2 linked regions of the Homo sapiens genome follow. The protein of the gene in region 2 purifies or fractionates together with the protein of the main gene of each other region. This does not show direct contact. Each region holds a gene or a part of one and is shown on either strand. Other genes may lie near its edges.

Region 1 (3,500 bases), on a different chromosome or scaffold from region 2:
GCTCACTGCAACCTCTGCCTCCTGGGCTCAAGCGATCCTCCCATCTCCGCCTCCCAAGCAGCCGGGACTACAGGCACGTACCATCACACCTGGCTAATTTTTGTATTTTTTGTAGAGACAGGGTTTTGCCATGTTGCCCAGGCTAGTCTTGAACTCCTGGACTCAAGTGATACGCCTGCCTTGGCCTCCCAAAGTGCTGCGATTACAGGCATGAGCCACCACGCCTGGCAATATTTTTACTATATTCTTTCCCCTTTCTTATAGATATATATTTTTTAATTTGTTCATATTATTTCTGTTCAGACATAGCAAAATATGGTCATATTGTGATCGTACTACAATATTTTGTATGCTGCTTTAATTTTGAGCATTCTTTTTTTTTTCTTTTTTTTGAGACGGAGTCTCGATCTGTCGCCTGGTCTGGAGTGCAGTTGCATGATCTTGGCTCACTGCAACCTCCACCTCCCAGGTTCAAGCTATTCTCCAGCCTCAAACTCTCGTGTAGCTGGGATTACAGGTGTGTGCCACCACGTCTGGCTAATTTTTGTATTTTTAGTAGAGACGAGGTTTCACCATATTGGCCAGGCTGATCTCGAACTCCTGACCTCAGGTGATCCACCCACCTCGGCCTCCCAAAGTGCTGGGATTACAGGCGTGAGCCACAGCGCCGGCCAATTAAGAGCATTCTTTTACATACATTACCTACTTTCCAAAAATGGCAAACTTCTATGGCTGCGTGATTCATCAAATGGCTATGCCATTACTTTACCATTTGATATAGTTTGGATATTTGTCCCTGCCCAAATCTCAGGTTGAAACGTAACTCCCAGCGTTGCAGGTGAGGCCTGGTGGGAGGCGACTGGATCATGGGATGAATTTCTCATCAATGGTTGAGCGTCATCCTCTTGGTGCTGTCCTCGGGGTAGTGAGCTGAGGTTGTTCCAAGTGTGTGACACTCCGCCCCAGCTTTCACCGTGCGACGTGCCTGTTCCCCTTTGCCTTCTGCCATGATTGGAAGGTCCTGAGGCCTCCCCAGAAGCAAATGCCAGTACCACACTTCCTGTACAGCCTGCAGAACTGTGAGCCAATTAAACTTCTTTTCTCATAAGTTACCCGGTCTCATGTATTTCTTTATAGCAATGCGAGAAGAGCCTCCTACACCATTCTTCTGTTACTCTCTGATTGTTCATTAATATTATTCATCTGTGAACATTTTCCCCCTTAAATTTGTATACATACTTCATTATTTCCTAAAGACAAATTCCTAAAATTCTGGAACAAAGGATATGACATTTTAAAGGCTCTTTATAAATACTAACTCAATGCCCTTTAGAAGCTTGTAGCCACTTACATGTGTTATGAGTTAAACTGTGTCCCCAAAACAGTTGAAGTCCTAAACCCCCAAAGTGACAGCGCAGCTTATTTGGAAACGGTACTGCAGGCGTAATCAGTTAAGGTAAGATGAGGTCATACTGGAGTAGGTGGGCCCCTAATCTGGTGTGACTGGTGTCCTTAGAGGAAAATGGCCACATAAAGACACAGGGACAGGAGGCTCTGGGGGCATCGAGGACTGCAGAGGCGTCTACAAGCCTAGGAGCTCCAAGAGGCTGCTGGCAGCACCAGAAGCTGGGAGAAGCATGAGGACTCTCCTTGGCAGGTTTCAGAGAGAGCCCAGCCTGGAAAACACCTCGATTCTGGACTTCTGGTATCCAGAATTGTGAGAGAAGTTTCTGTTGTTTTAAGCCCCTCAGCTTGCAGCATCCTCTCACAGCAGTCACGGGAAATCAATGGGATATGCACAACATTTCTTCATATAAAACTAAATCTTTACAACCTGACTGTAACTTACAGGTGAAATAATTATATCTGGGATTTCCATGAAACACACAGCCTAAAAAAATGAGGGGTTAGGTAACACAAGACCAGCAAAATACCAGCAATTGTTGAAGTGGAACAATAGGAACAGACGGGTTCACTATATTCTCTACTTTGGGAAATATTTTTTAAAAATTAAGATGGAAATGTAAACCATGGAGCAGGGTGGGGAGAGGGGGAGGGGGAAAGCCCACACTTCACAAAGACTCCACTGCCCTTCAGCTTTGGTGAAAAAAACCGTATCAGAACTCCAGCACAGGGCCCACTGCAGGAGCGTGCGCCTCGCCATCCATGTGCTTTCAAAACCCCAAGGTGAGCACACGGCCCACTGCAGGAGCATGCAACTCGCCATCCATGTGCTTTCAAAACCCCAAAGTGAGCACACGGCCCACTGCAGGGGCATGCGACTCCCCGTCCATGTGCTTTCAAAACCCCAAAGTGATGTTTGCATTAGACATGGGCCCCTCTGAGTCCGGTCACTCTGACAACGCCCATTTCTGAAACTCTAGTTTCCCGCAGCGTCCACAGTGAGAATGTGTTGGTCAGGTTGCCAGAATCCAGCTTTATTTTCATGGTAAACTAATAAACTGTCTTTTGATTTGACTTAAACACAAAATACTTCCCTACAGAAGCTAAAATAAATACACCAACAAAATAAATGGTCACAGGCATTAGGAAAGTCAAAATAATATTTCATTATTCTCCCTTCAATGCCTTGCTCAGGGACAGATACAATAAATACCAGTAACATCATATTAACTTACGGAATCACCATGCAAATAATAAATTACTTGAAATATCATTTGGACAGGGTTGTAAATTGTGTACTTAAGAAAAAAGAAAGGTCACAACAAATTTTTACCATCCCTTTTCTTGCACGTAAAAAATAGTAAATATTATAAGCATCTGTGGTTTTTAATAATTTGTAGGCATTTAATAAACAGAGTGCAGGGCCAGGTGAGGTGGCTCACGCCTGTAATCCCAGCACTTTGGGAGGCTGAGGCGGGCGGATCACTTGAGGTCAGGAGTTCGAGACCAACCTGGCCAACGTGGTGCAACCCTGTCTCTACTAAAAACACAAAAATTAGCTGGGTGTGGCGGTGCACGCCTGTAATCCCAGCTACTTGGGAGGCTGAGGCAGGAGAATCACCTGAACCCAGGATGTGGAGATTGCAGTGAGCTGAGACCGTGCCACTGCACTCCAGCCTGAAGGACAAAGCGAGACTCCTTCTCAAACTAACAACAACAACAATAATCAGAGGGCAACTGAGTAACTGTAACTTTAAAGATACAAATGTGACTCTCCTTTTGCCTTCAAGCTCCGGCCCACTGCATCTAACCCGGAGAATTCTAACAGAGGCAAACTACCACATAAAGCTCACGTGCCACGAGAACGTGAACATCCTCTGATTTCACCACAGACCAGTTTCATGAACACTTGAGAATCCACCATGTATGAGGCACTTTTCACTCATGGATTCTAATTCTTTCAACACCTCTAAATAGATGTCGCCGATGTTTTAGGTGATGGAATTCAGGCTCAGAAAGGTCACGTGAGTGATGCCCAGCCGCACGGGGAAGGGGCAGAGCTGAGATGCACTCTGTCTGGCTCCAAAGCCTGAACT
Region 2 (3,500 bases):
GCACAGTGAAACCCTATCTCTACTAAAAAAATACAAAAAATTAGCCAGGCATGGTGGCACGTGCCTGTAATCCCAGCTACTCAGGAGGCTGAGGCAGGAGAATTGCTTGAACCTGGGAGGCAGAGGTTGCAGTGAGCCGAGATCATGCCACTGCACTCCAGCCTGGGCAACGGGGCGAGACTCCATCTCAAACAAACAAACAAACAATGCATGTGTTATATATATTTTTTGAGACAGACTCTCGCTCTGTTGCCCAAGCTGCAGTACAGTGGTGTCATCATGGCTCACTGCAGCTTCAACCTCCTGGGCTCAAGCAATATCCTTGCCTCAGCCTCCTGAGTAGCTGGGACTACAGGCGCATGCTACCACAGATGGCTAATTTTTAAAATTTTATAGAGATGGGTTTTCACCATGTTGCCTAGGCTGGTCTAAAAATCCCTGGCTCAAGTGATCCTCCCATCTTGGCCTTCCAAAGTATTGGGATTACAGGTGTGAGCCACTGTACCCAGCTCAAAATTCCTATGTGGAAGCCCTAACTCCTAGTACCTCAGAATTTGACTATATGTGGAGACAGGACATGTAAAGAGGTGATTAAGTTAAAATGAGCCCATTAGGCTGGGCACAGTGGCTCACGCCTGTAATCCCAGCACTTTGTGAGGCCAAGGAGGGCAGATCACTTGAGCCCAGGGGTTCGAGACCAGCCTGGACAACGTGGTGAAATCTGGACTCTACAAAAAATACAAAAATTAGCTGGACGTTGTGGCACGCACCTGTAGTCCCAGATACTTGGGAGGCTGAGGTGGGAGGATTGCTTCAGCCTGGGAGGTGGAGGTTGAAGTGAGCCGATATCATGCCACTGTACTCCATCCTGGGCGACAGAGTGAGACTCTGTCTCAAAAAAAAAAAAAAAAAAAAAAAAAAGGGCCTTTTAGGGTGAGCCCTAATCCAACACAAGGGGTACATGTGTACAGAGGGAGGACCATGTGAAGAGCTGAGGAAGAAGACAGCCTTATAAGCCAAGGAGAGAGACCTCAGAAGAAATAACCCTGCTGACACTCCGCTCTCAGACTTCCAGCCTCCAGAACTGTGAGAAAATTAACTTCTGTCGTTGAAGTCACCCAGTCTGTGGTATTGTGTTATGGCAGCCTGAGCCGATGAATGAAGACCCTCAAGTACTTACCTTAGCCTCAGCTTCTTCCTCAGCCTTTTTCTTGGCCAGAAGCTCCTCCAGGGATAATGGCTGGGCCTGAAGATAAAACAGAACTTTAGTCTATAAAGGCTCTCTCCCTTTAAAGATCAACAAAGCAACGCACGAGTTGAAGATGAAAAATATCCTTCCTCTCCTTTACCTTAGGCTTCTTATCACCATGTTCATCCTCTTCATCCTTCTTAGAGTCTCTGTCCTTCCGAGATTTAAAGTCTTTTCCTCGACCAGGAGATAAGCTTTGAGGAAAAGGAACAAGGTCCACATCACTCTTACTTCAGTGCCTGGATGAGGTTCAAGTTGAGCCCCGAAAAGAGAATGGAAGTTTCCCCATGACTCAACAAGACTGGCCCATGGTCATCTATCATGTCTTGAAACTCTCTTAGCAGGCATGGTCATTCTGCCAGCTCTGAAACCTAATTATGGCCCTGTCTTGGCCCCTTTCTACCCAAATCTCCTTTTGAGACTAATCTCTTTTGGGAAGTGGGACTTTACTACTGATGTCAAAAATATTTCCCCTAGGCCAGGCGCGGTGTCTCATGCCTATAATCCCAGCACTTTGGGAGGCTAAGACAGGTGGGTTACCTGAGGTCAGGAGTTCAAGACCAGCCTGGCCAACATGGCAAAACCCTGTCTCTAGTAAAAACACAAAAATTAGCCAGGTGTGGTTGTTTAGAGAAAAATTTTTTTTTTTTTTTTTTTTGAGACACAGTCTCACTCTGTCGCCCAGGCTGGAGTGCAATGGTGTGATCTCAGCTCACTGCAACCTCCGCCTCCTGGGTTCAAGAAATTTTCCTGCCTCAGCCTCCTGAGTAGCTGGGACTACAGGCGAGTACTGCCACCACTGGCTAATTTTTATATTTTTAGTAGAGACGAGGTTTCATCATGTTGGCCAGGCTGGTCTCGAACTCTTGACCTCAGGTGATACATCCACCTCGGCCACCCAAAGTGCTAGGATTACAGGTGTGAGCCACAGCGCCTGGCCCTCCTTAACTCTTTAATATACAATGAATTTAGCCTACATGGCCACCACCACAAGCCAAGAAGATACTGCTATCTATATTCCCTCATCATTTTTCATTCCTATCAATCCCAACAATCCTTTCCCCATACCTGCTCTAAGCTTAATCTACAAGATAATTCAAACAACCCCACTGAGTTTCTGTTAGGAGCATTCTGTCCTCTGCCTTGAATTCTAACCTATACTTTCAGGGCCTGATAAGAACTCTGTATACAGGCCAGGCACAATGGCTCACGCCTGTAATCCCAGCACTTTGAGAGGCCGAGGTGGCCGGATCACCTAAGGTCAAGAGTTCGAGACCAGCCTGGCCAACATGGAGAAACCCTGTCTCTACTAAAAATACAAAAATTAGCCAGGCATGGTGGCGCATGCCTGTATTCCCAGCTACTTGGGAGGCTGAGGCAGGAAAATTGCCTGAACCCAAGAGGCAGAGGTTGCAGTGAGCCGAGATCGTGCCATTGCACTCCAGCCTGGGCAACAGAACAAAAACTCCATCTCAAAAAAACCCCCAAAGATTCAGAGAAGAATCCATAGATAGAAAAGCTTCAGGCTCCCTCTCCCCTCTCCCCTCTCCCCACGGTCTCCCTCTCCCTCTCTTTCCATGGTCTCCCTCTGATGCTGAGCCAAAGCTGGACCGTACTGCTGCCATCTCGGCTCACTGCAACCTCCCTGCCTGATTCTCGTGCCTCAGCCTGCCGAGTGCCTGCGATTGCAGGCGTGCGCCGCCACGCCTGACTGGTTTTCGTATTTTTTTGGTGGAGACGGGGTTTCGCTGTGTTGGCCGGGCTGGTCTCCAGCTCCTGACCGCGAGTGATCCGCCAGCCTCGGCCTCCCGAGGTGCCGGGATGGCACACGGAGTCGCGTTCACTCAGTGCTCAATGGTGCCCAGGCTGGAGTGCAGTGGCGTGATCTTGGCTCGCTACAACCTCCACCTCCCAGCTGCCTGCCTTGGCCCCCCAAAGTGCCGAGATTGCAGCCTCTGCCCGGCCGCCATCCCATCTAGGAAGTGAGGAGCGTCTCTGCCAGGCCGCCCATCGTCTGAGATGTGGGGAGCGCCTCTGCCCTGCCGCCCCGTCTGGGATGTGAGGAGCGTCTCTGCCCGGCCGCCCCGTCTGAGAAGTGAGGAGACCCTCTGCCTGACAACCGCCCCGTCTGAGAAGTGAGGAGCCCCTCCGCCCGGCAGCCACATCGTCTGAGAAGTGAGGAGCCCCTCCGCCTGGCAGCCACCCCGTCTGGGAAGTGAGGAGCGTCTCCGCCCGGCAGCCACCCCGTCCG

The links. Proteins that work in one complex are often made in the same cells at the same time.
Region 1: the proteins of DDX23 (region 2) and TXNL4A purify together in Homo sapiens (affinity purification with mass spectrometry; 3 studies listed by BioGRID and IntAct, with this or other methods). This does not show direct contact.

Annotation. Positions count from the first base shown.
Region 1 is NC_000018.10:79,978,564-79,982,063, forward strand, and holds part of TXNL4A (thioredoxin-like protein 4A), read right to left. Parts: intron 1-3,500. UniProt on the Homo sapiens protein: Plays a role in pre-mRNA splicing as component of the U5 snRNP and U4/U6-U5 tri-snRNP complexes that are involved in spliceosome assembly, and as component of the precatalytic spliceosome (spliceosome B complex).
Region 2 is NC_000012.12:48,838,664-48,842,163, forward strand, and holds part of DDX23 (probable ATP-dependent RNA helicase DDX23), read right to left. Parts: intron 1,444-3,500; coding exon 1,350-1,443; intron 1,247-1,349; coding exon 1,181-1,246; intron 1-1,180. UniProt on the Homo sapiens protein: Involved in pre-mRNA splicing and its phosphorylated form (by SRPK2) is required for spliceosomal B complex formation.